Linked DNA regions of Homo sapiens: region 2 is linked to region 1. A link means that fine-mapping ties the variant in region 1 to the expression of a gene that starts in the linked region. Tissue or cell type: whole blood. Region 1 holds a variant in brackets; the other region holds the start of a gene. All regions are shown on one strand. Distances are from middle to middle.

Region 1 (8,106 bases):
GAGGCAGAGGTTGCAGTGAGCTGAGATCATGCCAGTCTGGGCCACAAAGTGAGAGTCTATCTCAAAAACAAACAACAAAGAAACAGCATTATTTTTAAAAAGCAAACACAAGGTAGTTCTCTGAGGCATGTGAGGGATGTGTTAGATGCCTTCCATTTGTCCCACTCCCCATGTCAGATCTGTACTCCATCCTGCTCCACCTTTTTCTCCGCCCCTGGGTGCTGACCTGAGCAGATTATATAAGTAGAATCCCTTGCACATTGGCTTCTAGTTGAATTTGGTCAATGGGGAGTCCCAGCAGAAAGCTGGGCAGTGAGGGGAGGGAGGAGAGAGGTATGACGGTGTTTATTTCCCAGGTTCCTCATCAGGTTGCCTTGAGCTGGCAGAGGAGCCCATTCTATACAACTCTCTCCTTCCAGGTCCTGGGAATCTTTCCTTCCTCTCATCCCTTGGACCTAGGGTGGTGAGGGCTCACCTGCTTCTCCCCACAGGTCCCTTCACTCTCCATGCATCCTGCCTACACCTTTGTAAGTAGTTCCTTGATAAACCTTCTTAGATGATTGTAATTTGAGTGTGCTGCCCCCAGTGGTGACCCTGTTGTGATGGACAGGAAACTCTTACAGGGACAATGAGAAATTCTTAAAATATTGTGTCTGCTCTCAAAAAACTAACAAATACTTGGATGCACGAGCCTAACACTAGTGGGATTCTGTAGAAATGCAGCAGAGATTTAGAAAAGAGGTTCCCATGTGCCAGAATAGCTGGGGGAAACCTCTTGGATGGAGCGGGCTGAGGGGAATAGTTCTTGAAGGGAGAGGAGAAACCACTGAAAAGAGGCCAGAATACTGATATTGCCAAATAAAAGGGTGCACATTTTGGATATTAAATAACTGATGATTTAAGATAGAAATGGGGAGTAATAAGAAATAATAGACTGTGTCTAGCGTATGAAGATCTTGAGACCTCATCAGAGGAAGTTGTTGCATTTGAGACTTAGCATAATTCTGTGGCTGTGAAAACAGAAAAGAAAATTGCTTACCAGCTATTTAAAGTTAAGTACTTTGTGACAAGCTGGCTGTGGGATTGACTGTTTACTCATGTTGTGGGTAAACAAGAAGACATATTGAATCTTAACTCAGATTTTAACCGCTGGTACCTGTGAGTGTGACCTTATTTGGAAGTAGGGTCTTTGCCCCCATCATTAAGATGAGGTCCTACTGGATGAGGATGGGACCTAAATCCTGTCACTGGTGTTCATATAAGAAGAAGAAAATTTGAACACAGACACCCAGGAGAGTGCCAAGTGATGACCGCGACAAGGGTTGGGGTGACGTGTCTAGAAGCTGAGGAACACCAAGGTTGCGGCAGACACCAGAAGCTGGAAGAGGCCAGGACCGCCTCTCCCCTAACGCCTTCAGAGAAAGCACAGCCTGGCCACCACCTTCATCTTCGATTTCTGGCCTCCAGAACTGAGAGAATGAATGTCTATTGTTTAAGCTGCCAGTATGTGGCACTTTGTTACAGTAGCCCTAGCAAGCTAACATTCAGTATGTCTGAAGGGTAGTCAAGAGGAAGCTAGAAATTAAGATGTCGGCCCATGTTTGGAGTGGATTTAAGCCAAACAGCGTACTATGTGTGCCCTGCTAAAAATTATAATAACGAGAAATTGTTACAGCCTAAGAGTGACCCCAGGATTTGTAACTGACGTTGAGTGCCCAAGAACTGCGTGATAAGTCTATTAAGATAAAATTATTTCAAGTCCTCACTTTCGTTTCTTTACGTTTTCTCTCTTTTCCTATTAGCATATACACATCCAGTGGTCATTTGAAGCCCGGGTGCGTCAAGTGGTAAAAGCTTTCCCTGCTAGCTTATGCTGTGGGAACTAACTCCCAAAGTTCAGTGGCTTCAACAAAGCTCGCTTCTCACTCATGTGTTGGGCAGGCGTGGCTCTGCTGCTCTTTTTTCTGGAAACTCTGCAGAAGGCATAGGCAGTTCTAGTGACCAAGGGGAAAGAAGAATGGCAGAACCGCGTAATAGCTATAAAAATTCTCTCTGGAATTCACACACATTCCATTTGAAAGTCAGTCTCATTGCCAAACCTGATGTCAATGTGGAAGTGAATCTGTTCCTGCCACAGGAAGTTACTCCAGGTCATGGCAGAGTGGGCAGGGGTATGTCATCCTCTTCCTGGGAATACAGCAGGTAACTGAGGACAGCAGTATGTTCTACCCATGTTCCCTCTCAGTCACAAATGTGAATGTGTGTCCCTTCTGCACTCCACATCTGTGTCTTTTGAGAAGAAATTGCAAAAATTCCACTCAATTATAGCATCAGGCCCAAAGTGCAGGCACTCATGGGGGCCTCTACAGCAACTCTAGATGTGTCTTCTCTCAGTCTAGTCACAGATGGATGCCCGTCTTCCCCGACGTGCGGTGGAGCTGGGAAAGATCACTCCATTGAGAACAGGGAGAATGAATGCAGCCTGACCCAGTCACTGGTCCAGAGCGCTACGGACATCCCCGTGGGTGGATGTGGGAAGGGTTCCCCACCTCAACTGCCACTACCAGTTAAACTTCAATAAATTACGTTGCAGCTACACAAAACTTCTGAATCTCATGAGTCTGTGCTCACAGGCACAAGGGTGAGGTTCGAGGAGTTAGCTTGTGAAGCTACTTGATCACTGCGGGGTGAGAACCCATGGGTAAAAGCTTTCCTTTCTTTGCCCCATTTTTTGAGACATTTCACCAGGCTCCTCAGAAAAGGCCCCATTGATCTTGCACTGAGTCCCATTGGGTGGCCAGTTTGGTCACACATCCCACCCTCCCTGTTTCACCCCCTGCACCTGCACCCCTGCTCCCTGGGGTCACTTTCCCAGTTAAACAATTTGCACACAAGCCCTTGCTCAGGCCCTGCTCTGAGAGGGGCAATTCAGAGAACCCAAGCCAGAGCCAAAGCAAGTCACAAGGTGAAGCCCGCAGTGAACAGGGCAGGAACTGTAATCCTACAGGAAAGCAACCCATGGTGGGGAACAACACGCAACAAGCGACTGCAGTGGAAAAGTGGTGTTGTGGCTCTTGTTTCTTTGGTTGGGTTTTGGTTGTGGCTAAAGGCACAGTTCACAGTCCTCCGAGAGCATCTTAAGAGTTAGGATAATGCCATGGTTTCTAGTACATCACAGTGGACTTTCATTATTCAGAACTGTGTCATCTGCCCAGCAAGTAATTCCCTATAGTTTTCCAGAAAGCATTAATATGTTTACCAATTGCTGGTTCTTTAAAGTTAATGATTCTTCACACTGTGTTATCTACATTTGTCTGGGGCAGCTAAATTACTCCCAGTAACTTTGCACACACAACTGAGCACTAGCTTAACTGACATCATTAGGTGGCATCTAGAAGCTGTACTTGTTCAGATTCTGTGAACCAGCAGGGAGACAGCCCAGCATGGGACTCGTACCTGCATCTTCTCAGAAAGAGGCGTGTATACACAGAGGAACGGCTTCTTTTACAAAACAGTTGATTTAGACCTAACCTTTGTAGGTCTAGCATAGAGATGGACAAGTCCTAGGACTAAAACGAAAATACTAATCTAGGAAATAACAAAATTTTCTAAGTCAGGAGTGGCCAGCCTGTAGGGTGATTGAAGACTTCTATTGTTTCATTTATCGCCTTTGAAGCATGTGAAAATAAAACTGTTGTCACAAATTGTATTGGTCATTTGATTAAAAACACCCAGCAGCATTAACATGCCAATTGAACACACTTGTTTACACTAATTAAAAAATGAATGAATTAAGGATTCAAGTTTTGGAGAAGAAATTGTGCCCCATCTGCTTCTACTGGTGCTTTCCAACACCTTAATTAGATGGGCTACACTTAATTCCTGTGGGAGTTCCTAGGTCCCAGGTGTAGGAAATACACACTGAAGTAAGAGAGTCCTGAAATTTGGGAGATTCCCTGCAAATTGGGGCTACTCACCTTCCTGTAAGCAAGACCAAGTGTCTATCGAAGGTATTCTCTGCTGGCAAATGATTTATGGCGCTGGCTTTTGGGAATCCGTATTCGCTCACCGACTCCCACCCCGCAGAGTGCACCACGTGCTTGTCAGTTGCATGGAGCCTGAGAACAATGTAAAAAAATACTCCTGGCAGGATACCTGCTTAGATATTTTCAAGCTTAGAAAAATCATTTTTTCACACCTGTAATCCTAGCACTTTGGGAGGCCAAGGCAGGTGGATAGTTTGAGGTCAGGAGTTCGAGACCAGCCTGGCCAACGTGGTGAAAACCTGTCTCTACTAAAAATACAAAAATTAGCCAGTTGTGGTGGTGAGTGCCTGTAATCCCAGCTACTTGGGAGGCTGAGGCACGATAATCACTTAAACCCAAGAGGTGGAGGTTGCAGTGAACCGAGAGCATACTACTGCACTTCTAGCCTAGGCAACAGAGTGACTCTGTCTTAATAA[G/GA]AAAAAAAAAGAAAGAAAGAAAAGAAAAATTATTTTTAATGGCACCAAGCAACCCAACCTTTTTCTTTATTTGGTTGTTGTTCTGAGACATTTCCCAGAGGTTAGGAATTTATATCCAAAAATAATGTTGACAGGCATGACAGTTTGGGGTTGAAGAGAGAATTGGGCTTGTTTGCAAAATCTCTTTAATTTATCTCAGACATTTCACCAGCTAATTAATGAAGATCCCAAGCCAAGATCTAGTTCTGTATCATAACACCCTGAAAAGATTTTAACAGCTTCTCTAACTCTAACTGCCTCGTCTGTTGCTCCTGTTTAACACTGTGTCCGTCTCCAAGATGACGGGAGTCAATCTCACTTCTTTCAGAGACTACACTAAGGTTGAGAAAGGTGAGGCCCAAGGAATTCAAGTGAGTTTCTCATTGTCACAGTTACTGGCAGAGTCTGGGTTACGCTCTCCTTTTTAGACTTATTCTAATTCATTCTTTAAAAACATTGAAAGGAAAGAGTTTTAATTTCATATACAATAGAAATAGAAAAGAGGAAAACTCTCTAAAAGTAATATTTATACTACGGAAAAATCTAACTTTATTTTGGTTGAAAAGAGTATACAGATTTATATTTTTTGTAGCTAATACATATTTCTCTTTTGGAAGTGGTTGAAGTGGAAGAGACAATTTTATGTTTAATGTCTCGCGTCAGTTTTAATTTTCTGATTTAATTAGTTTCCTAATTAGAAGGGGTTAAATTAATTAACCTCATTATTTACTATATATTTAATGATTTCTCATCTATGGGGAGTTACTTAATTTTCAATAATTGGAAAGCTTATGACAAGAGGGGATATTGCCAAGTCTTACACTTATTGTTTTATGATCAGTGGCAGGAATAAGACAGATTAAGGGGAATTTTAGGTGAGATATCAGATACTTGCAAAGGTATTTCTTACTTGTTTTGAACCATGATGCATGTAAAAACTTGAGTTGAGACTCCATAATTTCTGTCCAATTTGAACTCAATGGATATGTCCTTTGTTTAAGGATAAAATACATCCTAGAACATAGACTTCTATAAGAAATAGCCCTGTCACATGATCTCAGTTATAGACAATAAAATAATCATGATGCATCAAATAATACTAAATAATTATAATGAAAAGGAGAGCTTCTGAAACTATCATCTGGTATAAATGGCATAATAAAATATTTAGTTTTTCCTCAGACTTGCCGGTGGACTAAATGGATGACATTTTGGGAAGAAATAACAGATTGATAAGCCTAGCAGCTATATGGCTTGAGGAAATCAATAAGCCATGTTATTTCATGTTTATAAATACAAACAATTTGTGGATAACTATGTTTTCATGTAGTGATGTGTTTTCCGAGAGCAAAAATGAGGCTGCATCTACAAAATGGCTGAATTTGCCTTCTCTTCCCACTTTAGAAGGGCCTCTGCACGGAGATTTGAGCAGCCAGAACTCTGCAGGCAGACACGGACAGAGAGAGGACACTGTTGCCCATTTCTCCCTGTCTCTGCATTGCTCCTTATCCACAGCACCACTACCTGGGAGAGACCCTGATCCATCAAGAGGTTATGTGAGTAAAGCTTGGGTACTGGTATGGTTTAAAACACAAGCCCAACGCATGTAGTCCAGTGAAGTGGTCTGATGATAGGAAATCCACTGTAGTTGAACAAACCTGTACTGAGCACGTAGGTGCATTGCATATAGGCTTTGTGTTGCAGTCAAGGCCCGTCCATGGAGTGACTGAGTTCCAGCCTGTAAGCAGCATATCAAATGCCAACGTGAGTTGCATAGAGTAATGGAATACAAAGTGTGAGATGCGACGGAGACAGGGATGTTTTGGGAGGTTGTCTTAGAGGAGGGGTCTTGAGAGACCTTCGAAGATCAACAGGAAGAGAAGGATGCCTGTTCCCTGTGGAAGAGAAGCCTGAGCAGAGGCCTGGGCTTGGGAATGAGCATGGTGGGCTGGCAGGACTAGCAGTCAGCTCCTGCCTGGAGGAAGATGTTGCGGGATGGAGCGCGGGAGACATGTACAAAGAAGCAGATTGGAGACCTTCGGGGAAAAGCTTTATATGAAGAAATGACTGTCCATATTTCTCATAAATTAGAATCCTACTATTTTCAATTCCTATCAAAAAAATTTACAGGCTGAAGTTGAGACAGTAAAAACTGGTATTCCATTTGATTCCATTTGGAAAATATCTGCCCTTATTCTGTTTATTTTATTTTATTTTTATTTTATTTTTTGTTTTATTGAGACAAGGTCTCACCCTGTCACTCAGGGTGGAGTGCAGTGCTGCAATCTTGGCTCACTGCAACCTCCGCCTCCCGGGTTCAAGCAATTCTCCTGCCTCAGTCTCCCACGTAGCTGAGAGTACAGACACGTGCCACCACGCCTGGCTAATTTTTGTATTTTTAGTAGAGACGGGGTCTCATCATGTTGGCCAGGCTGGTCTCAAACTCCTGACCTCAAGCGATCTGCCGGCCTCGGCCTCCCAAAGTGCTGGGATTACAGGCGTGAGCCACCGTGCCTGGCCTGCCCCTATTCAGTGTATAATAGCAGGCAAAATAGTGCTGCTAGTTCCACAATATCCAAAAAAGTACTAGCTAGACAATGCTGACTCAATGCTCTGGTTCCAAAATGTCCCATAGTTTCCCACCACTTGTAGACTGAAGTTCAGTCACCTTAGCCTGCCTTTCAGAGAACTCTCTAAGCTGTTGCTTTCCACCATACACCCCACCTTTGTACACCGTAGCCCGAGCACACTAGGCCCATGTCCTCCCACTCTTAGCAGACTAGACTACAGCACTTGACTCTCCAAACACATCCAGAACTTTCCCACCGCAGCCATGGCTGTGTTCCATCACCAGCAACCCTCTGCACTCATGCACCTGCACAAATCGCACCTGCTCTTCCTATGGCCAACCTTAGATGTCCCATTTTATGAAACATCTCTGATGCCTTGAGAAAGAATTTCTTTGGTCTCTTCTACTGTGATTTACATAAATATAAATGAATTATATAACTGGCGGCTCTTTGGCTTGGATCAAGGATGACTAACTCAACCACATGTGAGAGAGTTCATCTCACCCAACATAATGTCTGGTGTGGTGCTGCTGTGAACCATTTTCAGGGTAAGGAGTACAAACAAGGCTGGAGGGAGCCTCAAATGTGAGAGCTTGCCTTCATCCCAATACTTATATTTAAAGTATCAAAAAGACTGTATTCTAAAATACTTTGCCATTGCATCACCACCACCACCCCACTCCCAACCCCTCCAAGACTAAAACAAGTTTTTGTTTTTAAGACAGGGTCTTGCTCTGTTGCCCAGGCTGAAAGTGCAGTGGCGCCATCACAGCTCACTGCAGCCTCGACTTCACAGCACCCAAGGGACCTTCCCACCTCAGTCTCCCAAGTAGATGGGACCACAGGTACACACCACTGGCTACTTTTTACATTTTGTGTAGAAATGGGGTCTCAGACCAGCTACGGTGGCTCATGCCTGTAATCCCAGCACTCTGGGAGGCTGAAGCTGGTGGATCACTTGAGGTCAGGAGTTTGAGACCAGCTTGGCCAACATAGTGAAACCCCGTCTCTACTAAAAATACAAAAATTAGTCAG
Region 2 (8,106 bases), 84 kb before region 1:
TGAAGGTCGGGAGTTCAAGACTAGCCTGGCCAACATGGTGAAACCCCGTCTCAAGTAAAAATACAAAAATTAGCCAAGTGAGACTCTGTCTTAAAAACAAAAAGGAGGGCATATAAGGATTGGGCTTTTAAATAAAAATTTGGAATCCAATTTCTACAATATCCTGCCAGTCCTAAAATCCCACTCAACCATCTCTTCATTCTTGGTTGTAAAAAGCTGAGATCCTTTCTAGTCTGTCTGAATTAATAAAACATCCTTCCTTGGATATTAGGTGGCCTAAGTATATCACTTGTCTTCGACAAAATTGAAGTTTCTCTTTAGAGACTTTGTTTTCTTAGGGCTGCCTTTTGTAATAAATGTAGCCCATCATTCACAGAACATCTTGTTTGCTCTCCAAGATGGAAGTCATTTATTTACTGGATTAATGTATGCATTTCCAGGAAATTAACATCTGAGAGGCCTATTTTTAATATTTTTGAAAAGTAAGTCAGGCTTTCAGCATATCCTTGGAGGCCTGTGTGACCCAGTGTATTGTCTGTTTTCCCAAGTGAAGGCAAAGAGAAATTGGCTATTTTTGTCTACAAGAATGCTAAAGAATGTACTACATAAGTCTATGACTGTAAGGAATTCCACATTAGAAGGAATGGCTGTGAGTAACATAGGCTTGTGCAGTATAGGGTGCCATGGGATTGCCATGTTGTTTATTGCTCTCAAGTCTTGTACAAACCTCCATTCTCTAACATTTGGTTTTCTTACCAGGAGGATTGGGGTATTACAATGGCTTGTACAAGGAATGAACAGTCATCTTTCTATATAATCTGACATTATAAGCTTTATCCCTCCTAGAGCTTTAGTTCTCAAGGGGTATTGTCTTGTATTTTGAAGATGTTTCCATGGGTATATTTAAATATTTATTGGAGTAGCTGAGATGATAGTTTCTATATCAATGGAGGACACTGACCACAATGGATCAAGTACTGTCTTTAGTACATTTTGTAATTCTTCATTAAGCAATAATTCATTGTCTTTCATGGCAATATGGATTGCAATTGGATTAGATTTTGAAAATTTTATTAAAATATCTGTTGTGTCTCAAAGTTGAGTTTTATAATCTAATTTTAAATATATTTCCTTCCTTTGAGAGAAAGAAATGTGGGTATCACATAATTCTAAGCAGTTTCTTCCTGTTGAATGGATGGGGTCTGATGGAACAAAGAGGAGGGCATGAGTTCCTTGTAACGAACACTGTTGAAAGGTTACAGGCTGAGATTGGTATGCCAATACAGGAGGATTGTGATGCCCACCATTTGAATTCTTTGTTTACTGCAAGGAATGGGACCTTGTACCAAGATGGGATTAATTCCAGATAATGTGGCTCCAGTGTCAATAAGTGCTTGTGTTAGTTCTCCATTTATAATAATTTTTATTTCTCCCAGTGTTAGTAAGGAGGAAATGAAAGGCCCCTTTAAGTTCCTTGGAGCACCCCTGTTTTCTTTTCTGCCTCCACTGGTTAACATTCTTTCCTTTTTCATTTTTGGCAACTCTTTTGAAAGTAATCATGCTTTTTGCAAAAATTGCAAAGTGGAAGGTTAGGTCCATTAGGGAGTTTCTAGGGGTATTGTGAAGGCCAAAATTGTGTGAATAGTTGTTTTAATTGTAAATTCATAATTGTATTAGCCTCGCTCTTTTGTTTGGCTTCCCTCTCTCTTTCTTCTTCAGTTAAGGTATCAGATAACCGGTCAATGAGACTGACCAAATCATGAGTATCAGAAGTGGCCCAACTTTGTCTTTTCATTGTTAGTTCCAATTCATCTAACTCATTTGTTAAACTGGAGTCGAGTATCATTTCGATGATTAGCACAGCTTTCTTCGGATAAAACTAAATATTCTTTAAAATTTTTTCCACAGCCCTCAAAGTATATTACTGACTCATCTGAATTTTGTTGATATTGTATTTTGTTCCAGTTGACTACTCTGAAAAACTGAGGAGATAGCCTGATGCAAAGCCTTTGCTGTTCTTCAAGCCTGTCTATGGTCCTCTTCTGAACATTTATGAAGATCCCTAACAGATTTCTCCAGTGAGCTTTGTCTAGCCAGCCTTTAGCTTTAATTTTTGCTACTAACATGTGAATCTGTTGCTAGAAGTCAGAATAACTAGGGTCATAAGCTTGGATATTTAATTCAAATTTCCTAGCAAAACCAATAGGAACCTGGTGAAGATCAAGGAATTCTTTTAACTATGCCTGTAAGTTTGATCATGATTGATAAAGCAGGTTCCCCTCTACCAGATGCTGGATGAAATGGAGCCAAACCAGTGGGAGCAGGAGGAGGGGCAGGAGGAGGAGGAGGAGAAGGTCAATCAGGGCTGGGTAGTTCTGACAAGGAGGCTTAGAGAGACAGGGGAGCAGGGAGAGAAGAAGACATTTCAGTGTTTTTTAAAATTCAGTAATGGTTTTAGAGTGCTTTTTATTTTCTTCCTCTAAGGGAAGAATTCTGTCAAAACCTCTTTTGGATGCTTCTGGGTGCCATTGGAAGTAACTCTCTTAATTATTTTATTTGATTCCATAGCTGGCTTTTTAAAATTGTGCATATAAATAAACTAATCTAGCTATTTCAAAGATAATTCTCTTTGATCATTGTAATTTAGGATCTTCTTAGGTCAAATAAGACCATTTCTCCAACTATCGACAGGAGGTGGCGCCATAAGTCTTGTACATAAACCCCGCTGGAGTTTCCAAAGGTGCATTGCTTAATGAGGGCTTGGTTATAGATGGATAATTGCTCATAATTTGGATTCTCTTTTAAAATGCCCAAAGGCTAAAAGGGAAAAGTGTTTGGGGTCCAGTGTGCTGCTTAGTAGGGATTATTCCTGGAGGTATCACCTACAAGTAGCTTCTTCCCTCTTACCTACCTCAGAGAAACCCAGACATTTCTGGGAGTTCAAGGCACTGGGTGACGAACCCCTTGTGTGTTGTGTGCCCCGGGGGTTAAGCAGCTCTCCCTGTGAGTTCTTCTCTGGGGTTTGTTGTGAGCTTCCACACCCTTGTGTTACCTCCATTGCCTAAGGTGCCTTTCAGCTGGGAGAAAGAGTCCTTTTTGTCTTCAGCTTATCACGTCCTCATTCCAACCTTTTACAAATTTTGGGTGACTCAGGAAGAAACTTTAAATCTCAATGTTAACCAAGATCCAAAGCCTGGCTGGTTTAAAGCCACAAATTTGGCTTAAGCCACAAACATTCACTTTCTCCTTTTACAAAGAAAACTGCTTTCTCTTTAACCAAATGTCAAATGAGAGAAAAGGTTACAAACTTGAGCAAGTAAAAAAATGTCCAATGAGAGAAAAGGTTACAAACTTGAGCAAGTAAAATGTCCAATGAGAGAAAAGGTTACAAAAGAGCAAGTAAGACGAACGAAAACTTAACCTAATAGAAAAGTGAAACCACAAACCTGCCAATAGCAGAATCTTTAGAGAAATGACGCGAAACTCCTGCCTTAAAGCCCTAAATGGCGGCTTCAATATCAGTCCCACTGAGCATGAAATTCATTTACTTAAATAAAATCTGAATCTCAGCCCAAACCTGGGAGATTCAAAACCTGAGAGCGGTCTTACCAAAGACGCCCGTATGTCTGGTGAAGTCAGTTGGATGCAAGCAGTTTGTGCTGGTACCAGGGCCCCAGCTACTGATGAAGTGGCAGGAGTCCACAGAAGCCTACTTCGAAGTTCCCGGGGCTTCCAGGGGAGGTGAGAACACAAGTGATGGGAGAGCCTGGGGAGGGACTGTCTGGTGAGTAAAGGTTGTGCTGCTCTGTGGATGAAATGTCTCTGAGGTCGTAAACATCTCAGAGCCGCCTTCGGGAGAACGGGTGATAGTCATCTGGGCTGATGTCACCTCCAGTGTCCTCTCCTGTGATCTGTGTTAATCCTCCCAGATTGACGAGATTCCTGGGGAGGCGATTCATGACAGCTGAGTTCCTTTTGGAGGATCCGTCTTCAGGCAGGTAAGGGGAGCTCAGAGGAAACCTCTGCCTGCATCCGCTGATTCCCAAGTGCCCTCAGCTCACAGGGATCAGCACTCCCAAGTGCCATGGGGGTGGCATTTCCTGAACTCCTTCAAAGCAATAACAACAGGCTGGGCGTGGTGGCTTACGCCTGTAATCCCAGCACTTTAGGAGGCTGAAGTGTGAGGATTGCTTGAAGCCAGGAGTTCAAGACCAGCCTGGGCAACATAGGGAAACCCTGTCTCTACAAAGAATTAAAAGAAAACTTAGCCAGGAATGGCAGTGCACACATGTGGCCCCGCCTACTCGGGAGACTGAGGTGGGAGGAGTGCTTGAGCCAGGTGGTTGAGGCTGCAGGGAGCTGTGATTGCACCACTGCACTCCAGCCTGGGCAACAGAGTGAGACTCTATCTCAAAACAAACAAACAACAACAACAAAAGTGAAACAATAACAACAACTTTTACAAAACGGACATTTGGGATCTACATGCCACACTCCTAAATGCGTCTCTTAAGCAACAGGTGTCACAGTCTTAAACCTTGTCCTTACCCTCTTCATTCTAGGCACCTGTTTCATTCCAGGTAGGGCTTCCTCCTGGTTTCCTAACACAGCGGGTTGAGATGAACAGCAGAGAAGGACACTGCACACCTCTGCAGGGTCTCCCCTCTGGCCCACCAGCCCTCCCTTCTCCAGCAGTGAAGACCTCACTATGTCATCCAGGCAGGAATAATATAGACAGAAACCCCAGAAGCCCCAAAGCTCTGAAGCCTAAACCACAAGCCCCACGAAGTTCCACAGGGCCCACTGGGCAGAATGGCGTGAACCTTCAGGGTTTGTTTGGTTTTATGAACCATTTAGTCATTCTTTCTCCTTCCTCCCATGGTAGCACTAAAATACATTCTCAGGCTCCCAGGTATATACAGGGGGGACGGAGAGGCGAGGATATTCCTGATTGGAAAACAAAACAAAACCTACCTTTACTAATCTCAATATACAGATTAGGCTAATCAGATTAAATAATTCTGAAAGTTTTCAAAATGTCATTGTTAGATTTTTCATTATTTTAGAGAAGAGGTCTTACTCTGTTGCCCAAGCTGGACTCAAACTCCTGGGCTCAAGCGAACCTCCTGCCTCAGCCTCCTGAGTAGCTGGACTACAGGTGCGCACCACCATGCCTGGCTGAAATTGGTTTTTATTGAGGGTCTTGATATGAAAAAAAAGTCTTTGAATCTTAATGTTACTTTTTCATTTCTTCTTGGCAACCAAAGCATCCATGTTTTAATTTTTCTTTGTTTATTGTTGGCTGGAGAGCACTGCCTTCCTCATGTACCATGCATCAAGCCCTCTCCCCAGCCTGAAGAACACCATGTTCCTCTTAGCGATCATCAGTAACAAGGCGTGCCACTCGAAGAACTACAAAGATAAGGGTTTGGGGTTTGTGCTGGGGAAAGCTCATGACACTAGCTGCAGGAATAGAGGACTGAGCCTCCCAAGTCCTGGAAAGCAGAGGGAGGATGCCCCGCTCTGATTTCCTCAGCACCTTTGCAGAGCTCTTGGTCTCCTGCCTGTGCCCTGCAGGCCTGACTCACCTTCCTCTCTGCACGTGAGACTCTGCACACCTCCTATCGTGTTTATTGACGCATGGCAGCCTCAGCCCTCCATTTCATGTGACCTCCCAGCTTTGCTCTCTACAACACCTAACCCAGTCAGTTTCTGTGTCCTAATTCAAAATTGCTGGGAGAAAAAAAAGTCTGATTGGCATTTGAGTTTGAGAACGAAGGCTTGAAAGAGCCAGTTTGAAGAATGGGAGCAAGGCCTGGCTAGAGCACTGATCGACAAACTTTTCCTGTAAAGGGCTGGGTAGTAGATATTGCAGGCTTTGCAGGCCATGAAATCCACGCTGCATTGTAGTGGCATGCAAGCTGCCATAGCCAATCTGTAAATGAATGAGTGTGGCTGGGTCGCATTAGCATTTTATTTCCAAAAATAGCAGGTGGCCAGATTTGGCCCAGGGACTATAATTTTCCAATTCCTGAGATACTAGAAACAGAAGTGTTTTGTTGTTGTTTTAACTAACTCTTTATTGAAGTACAGCAAACAAAAGTATACACATTATAGCATTGTATGAACTATCACAGAGTGACTACACGCATGTAACCACCAACTGTGTGAAGAAAACATTGCCTGCATCCCAGAAACTATGTATGCACCCTTACTAGTCACTAATCTCACACTCCTCCCCAAAAGTAACTAAAACTCTGATTTGTATTGTCAGTGGTTTCTCCTGTTTTGGACTTTATATAAATGAAGTCATATTGTATGTATTTCTACTTTCTGTCTAACTTCTTTGTATGATATTCTCCCAGTGGAATTCATCTGTATTGTGGTTTGTACCAATGGTTCATTTCTTTTTATTGTTATTATAATATTTTATTGCATTACTATAATAGTATTTATTTCATTCTACTGTAGATGGACATTTAACATTGTTTCTAGTTTGGGGCTGCTGCATGTCTTTGGATGAATATGTGTACACATTTTTGTTGGAAATAGAATTGCTGGTCCAACATAGATAGATAGATAGGTAGGTAGATACATAGATAGATAGATAGATTTATTATTGAATATATATAACAAAATGTTCTTATTGTTCATCATAATTTCCAAATGACATTTTTTTTCTATTTGGTGTGGAATAACTTTCATATCTTCCATTAATTTTTTTAGACATAGTTCTTTTATTTGAACATGTTTTTGATACCTGGTTTAATGTCTTTGTCTAATAAGTCCAACATCTGGGCTTACTCTGGGACAATTTCTTTTGACTACTTTTTTATGTTTATAGGCCATACTTGCCTGTTCTTTTGTGTGTCTCCTAATTATTTGGTTGAAAACTAGACACTTTAAATAATATATCGACTCTGGAAATTAGAGTTGTTGCTGTTTTTGTGATTGCTGTTGTGGTGGTGGTTTATTTGTTTAGTGATGTTTCTGGATTGGTATTGTAAAGTCTGTATTCTTTTTTGTGTGCAGCCACTAAAGTATTTACTTGGTTAGCTTAGTGGTCAGCTAATGATTGGACAGAGAATTCCTTAAATGCCTTCAACCAATAAGCCTCCCCTTGCTCATGGGCTGTTTGTTAGGGTATGTCTTCAATGTCCCTGCAATTCACAACTCCACCTTAGTCTTCACTCCTGCTTGATCAGACCCTCAAGAGCCACTGGAGTAAGTACTTAGGGCCTTCCTGGTCTCTCTTGGGCCTGCATGCAGCCGTGCACACAGGAGGCCTTCTAATCCCCCAGGAATAAGTTGGAGCTTTTCAAAGCCCCTAAGAATATCTCTGTCCCTAGACTTTCCTTGTAAGTTTTATATCCAATTTCTTTTTTCTTTCTTTTTTTTTTTTTTTTTTGAGACGGTGTCTCGCTCTGTCACCCAGGCTGGAGTGCAGTGGCACGATCTTGGCTCACTGTAAGCTCCACCTCCTGGGTTCACGCCATTCTCCTGCCTCAGCCTCCCGAGTAGCTGGGACCACATGTGCCCACCACCACGCCTGGCTAATTTTTTGTATTTTTAGTAGAGACAGGGTTTCACCATTTTAGCCAGGATGGTCTCGAACTCCTGACCTTGTGATCCTCCCGCCTTGGCCTCCCAAAGTGCTGGGATTACAGGTGTGAGCCACCATGCCCGGCCTTTTATATCCAATTTCTTATCTGCCCTAAGTGGCACCACCACTTTTGACAGCTGGGATGTTGAACAGTTAGTGCTGATTGATTTTCACAAACACCCTGGGGATGGGGCTTTCCTCACTGGGAGATCTGAATCAGGTCAAATAAAGGTGAGCCTTGTGAATGGGGCTTGAATAGGAGCTGCCAGCCCAGGAGAAAGATTGATGATTCTCTGGGAATGAGGTTTTTGGGGCTCTGAAGCTGTCCTGCCCCTCTAGTCCGTCCATTAGGCTGTTGGTTTTCACTACTACCACAGTTCCAAGGCTGCTGTTTTTCAAGGCTGCTGCAGAGCTGATGGTGGTTGAGGGGGTGGGACTGGGGAAGAGGCAAAGTTAAAATTCCACAAAGCCTGCTGTTTACTGAGTTTCAGCCATTTTCTTTA

What was found. PIP is the estimated chance that this variant, and not a neighbour inherited with it, causes the effect.
Region 2: it holds the start of PAXIP1-AS2, and the variant in region 1 is fine-mapped to the expression of PAXIP1-AS2 in whole blood (TOPMed, PIP 0.99).

What each region holds. Positions count from the first base shown.
Region 1 is chr7:155,009,183-155,017,288 of GRCh38, forward strand. No RefSeq gene overlaps it. Among named protein-coding and RNA genes, the nearest start is that of PAXIP1-DT, 9.8 kb to the left of the region's middle. The variant G/GA (reference allele first, on the strand shown) is at 4,463.
Region 2 is chr7:154,925,027-154,933,132 of GRCh38, forward strand. PAXIP1-AS2 (PAXIP1 antisense RNA 2) reads left to right here and starts at 3,491. Exons shown (of 8, transcript NR_024476.1): 1 at 3,491-3,741; 2 at 3,930-3,998. RefSeq lists enhancers at 3,572-3,631, 3,652-3,751, 3,902-4,121.